Homo sapiens: one gene and its partner. The main gene of each other region encodes a partner of the protein of the gene in region 2 in a complex. Each region holds a gene or a part of one and is shown on either strand. Other genes may lie near its edges. A codon is read from its position in the direction of its gene.

Region 1 (6,147 bases), on a different chromosome or scaffold from region 2:
CCGGACTCTGACCATGGTGTCCCTGGGCTGTGGCTTTGTGGTAAGTTCTCCCCTCAACAGGGCTTCAGTGGACTCAACAGTGGTCTTAGTTCTTTGCCATCCTTTGGCTTCCCTTGGACTCTCACACCTAAGCCAACCTGCCGCCCTCTTTTTTCTTAGTGTCCACTTCCCCTATTCTGATACTTGGGGCAGGGAGCTTAGTGAGGTAGAGGCCTAGGGCTCCCTCACTGCAGCCTGCTGCTATCTGGGGTTTACTTCCAGGGCCCTGTGGTAGGAGGCTGGTACAAGGTTTTGGATCGGTTCATCCCTGGCACCACCAAAGTGGATGCACTGAAGAAGATGTTGTTGGATCAGGTGAGCAGGAGAACAGAGTGGGGAGGGTGAGCTGTGTTGGGGGTAGGTGGGGATTTCAGCACTCATAGGACTTTAATTTCTCTTCCCTAGGGGGGCTTTGCCCCGTGTTTTCTAGGCTGCTTTCTCCCACTGGTAGGGGCACTTAATGGACTGTCAGCCCAGGACAACTGGGCCAAACTACAGCGGGTGAGCTGGGCAGGTGTGGAGAATGTCTCTGGCTGGCGGGCTGACAGCCCAGGGGAAGAAGACAGGTTTTACAGGGATAAAAAAGGGGGTAAGTGCAGGTAGGGCCCCAGGCCATGGAGGAGAGGAGCTGAGGGTTATGGTGCAGGAATGTGCTCTTTGAACCCAAGTCTGTGTGTGACATTCATACTGGGAAGTGGGAGCTGCTTGGAGGCGCAAGTGTTAATTTGTTCCTTCTCTGTCTCCCCAGGATTATCCTGATGCCCTTATCACCAACTACTATGTAAGAGCTGACACCTCAACTGCTTGTTCTCCTGCTTCCTTAAGTCTAGAACTGTCCTGGGATTGGGGGGTCCTCCTGACATGGGAAACCCTTCCGTTGGGATTACTCTTTCATTCCCAGGATGGGCACCATAAATAGGGAAGCCATCACCCAACTGTTCACCTTTTTCTTGTGTGCAGAAGTTGGGGTAGGGCCAGGCAAGACAGTGAGTCTGGGGTCAGGTGGTGGGGCAGCCATCCAACCTTTACATTTTCTCTTGCAGCTATGGCCTGCTGTGCAGTTAGCCAACTTCTACCTGGTCCCCCTTCATTACAGGTATGTTGCACCCCTACCCCACCCATCAAGGAAGACCCACGTTACCAACAGTTGGAGACAAAATGATTCTCATTTCAACCTTGAGCTACCTTAGACCCCCAAACGGAACACTGAGCCGTGATCAGAGTTCCTCAGATTCCCAAGCGTGTTATTCAGAATGTCTTGCCATTTCCGGAAACTGTCCCAGAGTGTCTGCCCACTGACCTTCTTCATCTCCCTAGGGAGGATCCTGCTTCTACCACCCTTGTCTCCATCCCACCTGAGCTCCGTCTTTGATGGCATATCTGGAGGGACAGTGGCTGGGGTGCTGCAGCCTAGGTTAGACAGAGAGGTAGACCAGAAGGCCAAGTAGGAGCCTGGTCAGACACTCACAATAAAGACAGTTGCTGAACTGCACCCAAAAAGATAGTGGCACTGAAGATGTGTGGTTCAAATGCTTGAAGGTGAAGGATCGTGGGAACAGGGGAAAATATGGAACGCTTCAGAGGGAACAGGGCCAAAATGTACATGAGTAGCATAGCTAAAACGAATACAGACTGGCTGGGCACGGTGGCTCACACCTGTAATTCTAGCACTTTGGGAGGCTGAGGCAAGAGGTTTGCTTGAGTCCAGGAGTTTCACACCAGCCTGGGCAATATAGTGAGACCTCATCTCTACAGAAAATACAAAAAATTAGCCAGTCACATGGTAACATGTGCCCGTAGTCCCAGCTACTCGGGAGGCTGAGGTGGGAGGATCACTTGAGCCTGTGAGATGGAGGTTGCTGTGAACTGAGATTGTGCCACTGCATTTCAGCCTGGTGACAGAGTGAGACGACCCTGTCTCCAAAAAAAAAAAAAAAAAAAAAAAAAAAAAAGGCTGGACACAGTGGCTCACGCCTGTAATCCCAACACTTTGGGAGGCTGAGGCAGGTGGATCACAAGGTCAGGAATTCGAGACCAGCCTGGCCAATATGTTGAAACCCTGTCTCTACTAAAAATACAAAAATTAGCTGGGTGTGGTGGCAGGTGCCTGTAGTCCCAGCTACTCGGGAGGCTGAGGGAGGAGAATCGCTTGAACCTGGGAGGCGGAGGTTGCAGTGAGCCAAGATCTTGCCACCGCACTCCAGCCTGGGCAACAGAGCGAGACTCCGTCTCAAAAAAAACCCGAAAAAACAAAAAAGGAATACAGACTTATGAACCAAATCCTAAACATTAGGGTCCTTTGCAACACTCTTTGAAACCAGAGCAAGGTTAATTTAAAACAGAAAGATGCTACTTTATATGATAGTCCGTACATTTCGGAAGATGAAATCTCAGCTGGTACAAGACAGATCAATGAACTTAGAAGGGGCCCAGATAGGGGCCCTTTCTGTGATTAACAGAGCTATGCATGGCAAGAGAGCCGCTGAATATTTAGCCTTTGAGGCTCTCAGCCAGGAAACAGAGCTCTGGGATGGCACTAGAATTTGAGCCAGTTGTCCTTTAGTGCAAGCCACACAGGCCCTTCATAGGGTGCTGAAAGGGCTGGGTGTCGTGGCTCACACCTGTAATCCCAGCACTTTGGGAGGCCGAGGTGGGTGGCTCACTTGAGGTCAGGAGTTCGAGACCAGCCTGGCCAACATGGTGAAACCCTGTCTCTCCTAAAAATACAAAAATTAGCCAGGTGTGGTGGAGCACACCTGTAGTCCCAGCTACTTGGGAGGCTGAGGCACGAGAATTGATTGAACCCGGGAGGCAGTGAGCCAAGATTGTGCTACTGCACTCCAGCCTGGGCAACAGAGGAGACTCCATCTCAAAAAAAAGGTGCTGAAGGAAAGAGACCTAAACCTGCCAATCCTTTGTCATGATCCCTCCTTTGCCATTTCATGCTCCCATCTCCAGCCCTTGCTCACTGCTTAGCCTTCCTCCTCTTCATTGTGTTATTCCTGTTCCTTAGGTTGGCCGTTGTCCAATGTGTTGCTGTTATCTGGAACTCCTACCTGTCCTGGAAGGCACATCGGCTCTAAGCCTGCCTCACTCCATCGTTTCCACCTTGCAGTGATGCAGCTTGACCCTGGAACGGTCAGACAACCTCCTCAAAGTGGGCATACCAGTTTCCACGGGGTTGGGTTGCCGGTCAGAGCTTAAGAGGACTAGCACCCTGCAATGCCCCTCTTCACTCTAAAATGTACACTGACTGCTTTAGAGCCCTTGATAATAGTCTTATTCCCACCACATACTAGGCACTCCATAAATATCTGTTGAACCTTCATGACCTTATCAACTTTACACCCATATCCCAGCAAATGCCACTCATCCCCACTCTTCATAGACACATTTGTTACTCTAACCCTGCCTAGGCTTCTTGTAGCTCCAGCTCTTTAGAGACTCCCGGAACCCTTTATATGGTGCCTCAGTAAATATGTTATTAAATATGTAATCCGGAATCTGCAGTGGTAATGAGTAAGTTTTTAAGCAGAAAACTATTGGGGAGTCATTTCTAGAGCTGGAAAGAAGCCAAGAGACCACCAAGCCCAATTTTTTTTTTTTTTTTTTTTTTTTTTTTTGAGACAGGGTCTTGCTCTGTCTCCCAGGCTGGAGTGCAGTGGCGCGATCTTGCCTCACTGCAGCTTCCGCCTCCTGGGTTCAAGCAGTTCTCCTGCCTCAGCCTCCTGAGTAGCTGGGACCACAGGCGCATACCGCCACGCCCGGCTAATTTTTGTATTTTTAGTAGAGATGGGGTTTCGCCATATTGGCCAGGCTGGTTTCAAACTACTGACCTCGTGATCCGCCTGCCTCGGCCTCCCAAAGTGTTGGGATTACAGGCGTGAGCCACCGCGCCTGGCCAAGCCCAGTCTTACAAATGAGGACCCTGAGGTTGGTAGGAGGGAGGTGACCTGTCCACACCAGGAGTTAGCAGAAACTTGAACCCATATTTCTTTGCTGCTCATGGGCAGAGTTACACTGCTGCTATGATTCCCAGGAGAGAAACTGAACTTTGCTAAACTACTTTGGCAAACTCAAAAGCAGATGGGCCAGCCATTTGTGGTCTGAAAGCACTCGGATGCTAGAGACCCTCTGTTACATGGTGCCTGTCAGACAGCCCTACAATTTGGATCCTGGGGCTGGAAAAAGATAAGAATGCTGGGAGACTTTGGTTGTGGCAGACTGCCTCTCAGTGGGTCCCACTGTGTTGGCTGAGTGCCAGCGGTGGACTCCTGATGCCTGCATTTGCAGAACTGATAGCTGCAGGGAGGCAGTGGGTTCCAGCGGCACAGCGTTCTCACATTTCTGGCCACTTCTAGAGGCAGAGGACGGGGTCAGCACCATGGACAGCCTCACGGTCCCGCCTCCCTTTCGTGTGTCAGAACACGCGACCCGGACTAGTCTGGTCTGGGGACGGCCCTAGTCATTGCTGGCTGTTCTAAGCGGGGCGAGGGACTCCCGTGGGTCCCAGAGCAGTCTTTACGCCCCAGCCGGCTTCTCGCTTTCCTGCGTCCAGTGCTGCTTCCAGCGCTAGCCCCAGGGGCACGAAGGCTGGTGTAGGGAGGTGCGCCCCTCCGGGGGCCCGCCAGCCGTCAGACTCGAAGCTGTGGCTGTCATTGCTTCTACAATCAGTGCATGTTCTTCGCTGACGTCAGTCGGAGCTGTCCTGGCACTATATAAGGCTGGCGACAGCCCCGGGACAGACCCTGTGTTCCCCAAGGCGTCTTCAGCCTGCCCCGAGGGACAGAGACTGGAGCTCAATCTTGGACCGTACAGACGCTCGCCGACAACCTGTGAGTGGCTCAGAGCGTCCGCCCAGCCTCCCCCTGCACCAGGACTCCGCTCAGCTCAGCCACCACGCTCCTCCGGGGAGGGAGGCTGGGTGGAAGGGATGGAACAGCACTGGCGCAGTGGCTGGGGCTGGAGGGCAGGCTGCGGGCATTGGGCGGCGGCCGGAGGGGTCGCCGGGCGAGCGCGGGGAGGGGAGCGGCGGCCTGCAGCTGTCCCAGGCGCACCTCACCCTGCGCTGCCCCTGTGTGTCCAGGGCCGGCGGCACCATGAGGCAGGCGGGACGCGCAGCGCTGCTGGCCGCGCTGCTGCTCCTGGTACAGCTGTGCCCTGGGAGCAGCCAGAGGAGCCCCGAGGCGGCCGGGGTCCAGGACCCGAGTCTGCGCTGGAGCCCCGGGGCACGGAACCAGGGTGGCGGGGCCCGCGCGCTCCTCTTGCTGCTGGCGGAGCGCTTCCCGCGCCGCGCGGGGCCCGGCCGATTGGGACTCGGGACGGCAGGCGAGCGGCCGCGGCGGGACAACCCTTCTCTGTCCATTGACCTCACCTTTCACCTGCTGCGGACCCTGCTGGAGCTGGCGCGGACGCAGAGCCAGCGGGAGCGCGCCGAGCAGAACCGCATCATATTCGACTCGGTGGGCAAGTGATGGCCCGGTTTGGGGCTGCGAAAACGTTGACCCCTTTCCCCCACCCCAGAGTTGGGATGCGGGGCAGAGCCACCAGGGCACTGTCTGCGTGACTATTTTTTAATAAAAGTACTGAAGACCCGTTGGCTTTTGTCGTAGAGGCAGGGCAGTCACAGCAGCGTGGGAACCCGTGGGAAGGTGGGGCCCCCGGGCCAGCGGGAGGGGAACAAAATGCTGTGGGGGGCTCCGAGACAGCGGCTTTCAGCCAGGTCAGCCAGGTGCATGTGGACCCCAAGGGTCCCCAAATCCCCAGGACCTCAGAGGTCCCGGCACCACCGCCCCGCCCTCGGCCCTCTTCCCAGGGCGCTGGGCTCACCAGTTCGCTCCTGGCATCACAGAGGTGCCCAATAGGGGTTCATTTGGCTTCCGCCCCCCAGACGGTCTCAGGTTCTGGGAAGGGCAGGATGGTGGGCGGGTCGCCTTCGAAGCCCAGGCTGCGGGGTTGGGCAGCGAAAGGAGATACGGGTCTGGGACGCTCGAGTTCTTTATTGAGATCCTCCCGGGGCCGGCGCCGATTTGGGTGATGCTGCGGTCTCTGCGCAGATCCTCCCCGACTCTAGCGCGGGCTCTCGAGCAGGGTCGGGTCGGCGCAGGC
Region 2 (7,020 bases):
GGGGGTGGGGGAGATGACATCTTTCCTAAGGTGTCAAAAAGACCTGGAGAAATGGCAGATGGGCTAAGAACTGAAGATGAGGCCCCCCTCCCAAATGAACTGAAGCACCAAGTCCTAGTCTCATGGCTCAAATTTTGACTGTTCCAATTTGCAGTTGTGTGGCCTTGGGTAAGTTGCTTAACCTCATGAGCTCCTGCTTCCTTGTCTGCCCCCGAGGGGCCTAACCACAGAGCTTGCCTTAGAAGATCAGCATGGGCTGAAATAGTCACAGAGACCACTAAGACCTGTGTCTGGCCTAGTGACTGCCAATCCTTTCCCATGACACCAACAATGACAACACCAGCAAGAAGTCAGGCTTCCTGCAAATTCAACCACCTGATTCACTTCTCAGAACCAGAAATAAGTGAGTGTCTCTTAGCAGCAGAAATGCAGCTGTGAGCTGCTGGGGAGTGTAGGGATGGCAGGAACACCAAACACGTGTCCAACCTCGAGGACAACAGGCAGATGGTGGGGACAAAGCAGGAGACCTGCCTTTGAGCCTCTGCTCTGCTAGCTATTAGTGGTGACCTTGGGCAAGCCACTTCATCTCTCTCAGCTTCTTCCTCTGTAAAATGGAGAGCATAACCCTACTTCTTTTAGGACTTGAGCATGCAAGGGTTGGAAATAATGTAGATAGAGCTTCTGGAAGGGCTCAGCTTGGAATGTGGAAGCCCCTGTTGGTGCAAAGAGCTGGGCCCAAAGGAAAGAAGGAAAGGGCTCGTGAGCACAGACGCAGGGGTGGAGCCAGAGAATGGGTCTGGAAGAGGAAGCATGGAGCTGGGTCTTGACACTGAGCTCTTGCGTTCCTCGCCTCCCTTTCTCTTGGCATTTCCTCACCACCCTTCCAACATCTTTACAGTTGGGGCTTACTCTTTGCCACCATTGGTCCCCCATCCAGGCCAGCCTTCCTTGGCTCAGTTCCAGGCTCATCAAAAGCCTTATTCCTCCAGGATGGCCCTTGGCAGCTGGTTGGGAGGGAAAGGATCTCATGGGGTTTCCATACACACTGAGGGGTGAGTGACTCACTGCAGCTGGGAGTCCAAGGACAATCCTACTAGCTGCTGACAAAACCTGGCTTCTGCCTCTGAAGCGAACCAAGCCCTGACGGTGGAATTTCCAGCAGTGGGTGAAAAACCTTCCTAGTCTTCATCAGTTCACATATATCAAGGACACTCCAAAGATGGAGGTCAAATGAAACCCGAAGTCACAGAAAAAGGAGAGTAAGAAAATAAAAGAGATAAATAATAATTGTCTCCAAGGTAGACAAAAGAAAGCCCCACCAGGCACCTTCTGTGTGCAGGAGGAGATGGCACTCTCGCTGAGTCTCCCAGAAGGAACTGTGGCCCTTTAAGGAAGCTGGTACATACAGGAGCCTGAAATTACTGAGCCTGAAATAAGTCTTACGTAAATGCCAATTTCTTACGGGGCTTTTTTGTATGTCTTTCTTTCTTTATCTCTCTCTCTTTTTTTTAAAGGTATGATATATAATGGGTTCCTTTTGCAGAATGCAGCCTCTACTTGAACTCTCTCTTAATTAAAGCTCATTGTGGATTAAAGATGTGTGGCAATTATACCTTAGATGCAAATACATTTGGCAAAGGGCAGGGAGCTGGACAAGGAACAATTCCTCATTATGCTGCATCCCGGTATTCACCGCTTCAGGCTGGGGGTGGTGGGCTGGACCTGGAGAGGGTCACTGGGGGCTGAGGGGAACGTAGGTCTGGAATGAACAGAAGCCCGCACACTCTTCTCTTGTCACCAGCTGCCTGCTCACCTGGCTTTCTCAGCATTGTACAGTGTCAGACCGGGAGGGCACAGGAAGTCTACCCATCAGATCCTTTCTCCTCCCAGAGAAAGAGCCCTGAGGTCAGCAGAGTGGTGCAGGGCTGCGCCAGGGCATCGAGCATGAGGAAGGGAAGGCCGGGTGGTGCTGGGGCACAGGGTGGCATGGACAGGGTACGGGGGTGGCATATAGAGTGTGTGCGCAGGGCTGCCCATGCCACATCTTTCCCAGCGTCTCTGCCTGGGTGGGCCCTCTTCTGTCCTCTTGGCACCCAGCCCCATCCCAGCCACCGCTGAGGGCTTACCAGGAGCACGAGAATGATGGGGCCTTGGTAGATGTAGTCCACCAGGTCGCCAGGCTCCTTGCCAAACCAGCACCTGTGAAGATGGGGTGGCTGTAGGGGGCCTCCTGAGCTGGAACTGGGGGACCCCCACAGACTTGGGCCCAGGGTCCTCCAGCTTTACCCTTCCTGAGACCCAATCTCCAGGACTGCCCCTTCCCAGAAAGCCTTGGTGGAAATACCAGCTCCACTGACCACCCTTACCCACCAGGCTGTCTTTTGCTCTACATGGTGGGTCTGATCTCCCCAGCCCGACTGAGGACAGGCCATGGGTCTCTTTCTCCTCCTCTTTTACCTGCCCCATTGCAGACTGCTAGGCATAGGACTGGGCATGCAGGAGGCACAGGAATAAAGGGAGAGCTGGGCTCCCCCTTGCTGGCCCAGGGCCAATTGCCTTAGGCCACCTGTTCCCATATTGCTTGAAACCCGCTGTTCCGTGTGCCAGGCACTCACTCGGCCACACAAAGCAGCAGATGTGGAAGTGGAGCCTTCCTACCTCCAGCCTGGGATTTTGCGTCTTTGAGCCAATGCTTGTGCACCCAGTGAGGGGAGCTGCTGCCTGGCTGGCCTCACTGGCTGCCAGAGGCATAATTCATTCTCCGGGGATGCTGGTCAGGGGAAATGCTTTAGGGTCTGGGTCGGCCAGCAACTACTGGACCACAGGGAGGGGCCATCAACTTTGGGGAACTCATTCCTCTGAAATCTTGGAGGTCATCCAGTGCAGACCTGCCTCAGATAGGATTCTCCCTGTCTCCCAGGGTTTCTGGCCTCTGCTTGGAGCCCTCCTTTGACAGGAAGCTCACCACCTACCAAGGCAGCCCTCTTCTTGGGCAGCTTTTACTCTTACAAGCTCTTCCTAATGTTGAGCTCCTGGAACTCTACTCCATTCTTGCCCCCACTCTGAGAACAGATCCCCTCTGCTCTCTCCAGGCTCTGAGACAGACCCCTTGGAGATTTGCATACAGGCTAATGTTCCCTGGTCCCCGCTGCTCTCAGCTGGTGACACCTGACTTTCTGGCTGCTCCTTGGCTGACCCATGGCCAGAGTTGCTGTCATTTGGGCTGTGGCTCAGCATATTACAGCCTCTGGCATAGGGAGAACCTCAGGATGGGACACTGCACCCAGGCAGAGACTGAGACTTCAGAAAAAAAAACAAGCTCTGTTAAATGCTCATGGACTCTTTAAATGCTCATGGACAGCTCTGGATGTCATGTGCGGCCTTGGCCCCTTCCACATACCCCGGGCCAGAGCTGCCACATCCAAGTCTGAGGAGGCCTTACAAAGACCAAAGGGGTCATGCGTTGGGTCGGGGGGCACTTCAAGGAACCACAATTCCTAACTTAATTCAGCAAAGTTCCTTGAGCCCTACCATGTGAGTACCTCTGAGTGCAGGACTATTTTTTTCAATTTAAGGACAACAGGAACGTGGATCTGTCTAGGTGTGGCTACAATTCCTGCTCCACGGCTTGGCCAGAGCCCAAGGCTGACCTGTCCTAACACCCCCATTCCCTTCCCCATGACCCCCCATGGCTGGCCCATCCACTTACTGTTCATTCTCATAGTAGAGCTTGCCGATGGCCCAGGCGACGATGATGGGGAAGGGGATGCCTGAAAGAAGGAAAGACTTGGGCTGCAGGGGACAGATGGACAGGGACTTTCTTGTAGGACATACCGTGGGGTACCACAACAGGGCTAGGATCATGTTTTTACTCTTCCAACAGCAGGCCACCCACAACCCCAGGGGTGCCCTGTCCCTCAACACCTGGCCCATGCCCCTGCCCCTCTCTCCAAGCAGGGCTGCGTGATTTTGTGATAGAGAAGTAGAGCCAGCCAGTTTCTGAGCCAGAGACAAAGGCCTTTGGACAGGTCCTTCCTGGCAGGGGGAGAAGAGCTATTTGAGGAATATCCTTTGGAGAGATCCTTTGCTTGTTCCTCACCAGCATGGAGGGAAGTAGCTGCATCCACCGGACTGCGCTGGGGGTGGAGGGCAGGGCCAGGCTCTGGTCCTTGGACCCAAGACGAAGGGAAATGGCCTGGTGAGAAGTCCTCCCCCCAACTAGGCCCTGCTGCCCCTGGGACCCTCACACCATCCGATGAAGAGGAAGAGGCACTTGCGCAGGCGCTCAGTGGAGTAGGTCATGACAATGGCCGTGTGCAGGTAGCAGCCTTCCACAAACATCCAGAAGAAGTTGGTCACCACGAAGTAGTTGAAGATGGTGGTGATGCAGCGGCACCAGACCTGTGTGCAGGGCAGAGAGGCTGTCAGGAGGCAGCTTGGGGCCCAGGTAGGACATACCCATCCCCAGGCAGGGCAACAAGACACAGGGCTCCCCAAAGGGGGTTCGTGGACATGCCATCAAATACCAGCGAACCTCACTCTGAAAAGCTTCATCCTTCTCCAGTGCTCTTTCACACTTTCAGATTAAGTTAAGGTGCCATTCTCCACTGGGGCCAACGTGTTTTTTTTAACTTCTCTCTAACTCTTTCTAATTTTTCATTCTAGTAAAGAGAGCAAGAGTCTGGCTCTGAGCTTTCTGTAGGCAGAGGCTGGAATTCAACCATCTTGTTGTGTTTTCATTTTAGTTTTTTTGAGTCATTTTCAATCCATAGCAAGTCAGACCTGCTTCCTTTTGGGGATGGGATATGGAATTTCATTTAGAAAAAAATGAAAAAATAAAAGTGAGTAAAGTGAGTCAAGGGTGTATGAAGTGGGGCTGCGGCCAGGGAGGGGATTCTCCAAAGACTCTGGGTTTGGGAACTTCTGGACTTGGCACAATTATTACTAGCTCTGGAGGGAGACTTGCAAAGTACACGGCCCCCGGCAAGTCACTGCACCTCTCTGAACCTCAAAAAGTAACCCTGCCTTCCAGGGTGGTTGAAGGAGATAGAGGATGGCAAAGACAGGCATGAGGGTAGCTGTGTTGTGGCTGTGGTTGTGCCTGCTGTGGTTCCGTGCCTTCCCAGCAGAGGGGAATGTGTCCCTGTCCCTCTGAGCAAGGCCACCCTTCCCCAGGCACCAAGGCTACCTTCCCAAAGGAGGCAGGGAGGGGAAGACCCTGCCCCTTTAGAGCCACGCAGTGGGCCATGGCAGGGCCAGGGTCTAGACATTGGGCTTCCAGGCCAGAGCTCCTCTCAACAGACCCCACCTGGTCATCTTCCCCACAGGCTCATCCCCAGGGCACCCTGAGAGCCAAGGCTGGGACATGGGGAATGATGGAGCCAGCTCAAGGTCCGGGGAGCTGTGCGTCAGGGGCTCTGCTTCTGCACACAGCCCATCCTCTCTGTCTGGCTCTGACAGCCCCAGTTCTCAGATAACCCTCCTGTGCTGAGCTGTTGGCTGCTTCTGGGCTTCCCTGCACAGTCCCTGTGGCTGGCTGTCTCCTTTTTTCTGAGAAAGTCCTGCTGAGGTGGGAAGCTACCAAGCCCCTCCTCCCAACCCTACTTTTCATCCAGGGTTGATGATGTTCTATTAGCACAAGCCCACGTTGGAGCTAGAAGGCACCCTCAACTCGAGTGAACCTGTTTGATTCTGAGGCAGTGTTCTATGTGGGACCATGTTAAGGATCACACCAGGCTGGTGTCTGCTCAGGCACAGGCCACCCAAAGGAAATGTACTGAGAAGTCTCTGTCGGTGTGCCACAGGGCTCTGTGATGGCCCAAGACTAGTCTACAGTTTTACAATAGCTTGGACACAGTACACAGCAATGGACAGAAATCCAGAGTGGACAGTTAGCATGTGGGATAGCCCCTTATGTAGAGGTATCATCACTGCATGTGACCTTGGCGAGTCACTTAACCTCTGTGAGTCTCAGTTTCCATGTCTATGTAATGGGGAAAATGATCCCTGCTGGTCTCATTAGGATTAAGTGAGAGAAAGCTCAACAGAGGTTAGTTCTAGCTTCCTTTTCTCAAAGGGGTCTTTGAGGGCACCTGAATCCACAAGATGAGGAGTGGACTAGGATAAATGTGTCTAGAGTCAGCTTTGTGAAGCTCCCAGCCTGGCAGCTTCCTGCTCCTCCCAGCCCAGCTCTGTTGGGACAATGGCTAGGGTGGAGGTGAGCTCAGGTCTGGTTTTGCACCTGAGCCACAGCCCAGATGACAGCATTCTGGCCATGGGTCAGCCAAGGAGCAGCCAGAAAGTCAGTTGTCACCAGCTGAGAGTAGCAGGGACTGGTGAACATCAGTCTCTGTGTGCAAATCTCCAAGGGGTCTGTCTCAGAGCCTGGAGAGAGCAGAGGGGATCTGTTCTCAGAGTGGGGGCAAGAATGGGGTGGAGTTGCAGAAGTTCAACATTAGGAAGAGCTTGTAAGAGTAAAAGCTGCTCAAGAAGAAGAGGGCTGCTTTAGCAGGTAGTGAGCTTCCTGACAAAGGAGGGGTCCAAGCAGAGACCAGACAGACAGATGGGTGCCCCCGGAGCCCAGAGCCCCCCAGGTATAGCCCCGAGTCTCCCCGAGCAATGACCTCATTGCTCTCGTGCACTTCATGGTCAACGAGCTGCAGCAGGAACCACATGACATTTCGCAGGATAAAGGTGGTGATGAGGTTCCAGTGAATCACATTCCGCAGACAGCGAATGCTCCTGTGGGAGGTGCAGGTCAGGGGTCAGCCAGGTTCAGGGGTCAACTGGGACTGGGTTCCCCCTGAGGCCAGGTAGAGACTCAGCCTGGGATGAGGGCAGGGCTGCACTAGGAGCCACTTCCCACCCATGGTGGCCACAGTTGGGCCTCTGAGTCCAGCTCCCACTCTGCACCCCACATGCCTGCTGGTGATTCATGCCCTGGCACCCCACCCAAACCCCACTTTCTCCACGGGCCCTTTTATCTGCTGGGCCCCAGAATGGAGGTGAGAATGTCTGGGA

What was found. The genes of interacting proteins can lie anywhere in the genome.
Region 1: the proteins of CRHR2 (region 2) and UCN are in contact, whole or in part, in a cryo-EM structure (PDB 7TS0), measured with the Homo sapiens proteins. Residues at the interface, in NP_001874.2 of Homo sapiens: Phe68, Asn69, Gly70, Val71, Tyr73, Ile101, Leu102, Asp103, Asp104, Arg107, Asp110, Tyr113, Leu117, Asn120, Trp166 (codon at 6,671), Leu169 (codon at 6,662), Gln170 (codon at 6,659), Val172 (codon at 6,653), Asp173 (codon at 6,650), His174 (codon at 6,647), His177 (codon at 6,638), Glu178 (codon at 6,635), Thr188 (codon at 4,383), Phe191 (codon at 4,374), Asn192 (codon at 4,371), Phe199 (codon at 4,350), Phe256 (codon at 2,192), Gly257 (codon at 2,189), Lys258 (codon at 2,186), Asp265 (codon at 2,165); in NP_003344.1 of Homo sapiens: Asn84 (codon at 5,388), Pro85 (codon at 5,391), Ser86 (codon at 5,394), Leu87 (codon at 5,397), Ser88 (codon at 5,400), Ile89 (codon at 5,403), Asp90 (codon at 5,406), Leu91 (codon at 5,409), Thr92 (codon at 5,412), Phe93 (codon at 5,415), His94 (codon at 5,418), Leu95 (codon at 5,421), Leu96 (codon at 5,424), Arg97 (codon at 5,427), Thr98 (codon at 5,430), Leu99 (codon at 5,433), Leu100 (codon at 5,436), Leu102 (codon at 5,442), Arg104 (codon at 5,448), Thr105 (codon at 5,451), Ser107 (codon at 5,457), Gln108 (codon at 5,460), Arg111 (codon at 5,469), Ala112 (codon at 5,472), Asn115 (codon at 5,481), Phe119 (codon at 5,493).

Annotation. Positions count from the first base shown.
Region 1 is NC_000002.12:27,306,887-27,313,033, reverse strand, and holds UCN (urocortin preproprotein), read left to right. Parts: upstream 1-4,588; 5' UTR 4,589-4,874; intron 4,875-5,125; 5' UTR 5,126-5,138; coding exon 5,139-5,513; 3' UTR 5,514-5,634; downstream 5,635-6,147. Other genes in the region: mitochondrial inner membrane protein Mpv17, read left to right, coding at 1-40, 262-354, 445-540, 788-820, 1,083-1,135, 3,053-3,122. UniProt on the Homo sapiens protein: Acts in vitro to stimulate the secretion of adrenocorticotropic hormone (ACTH). Binds with high affinity to CRF receptor types 1, 2-alpha, and 2-beta. Plays a role in the establishment of normal hearing thresholds.
Region 2 is NC_000007.14:30,658,447-30,665,466, forward strand, and holds part of CRHR2 (corticotropin-releasing factor receptor 2), read right to left. Parts: intron 6,742-7,020; coding exon 6,624-6,741; intron 4,402-6,623; coding exon 4,248-4,401; intron 3,771-4,247; coding exon 3,710-3,770; intron 2,200-3,709; coding exon 2,127-2,199; intron 1,596-2,126; exon of another isoform or gene 1-1,595. UniProt on the Homo sapiens protein: G-protein coupled receptor for CRH (corticotropin-releasing factor), UCN (urocortin), UCN2 and UCN3. Has high affinity for UCN.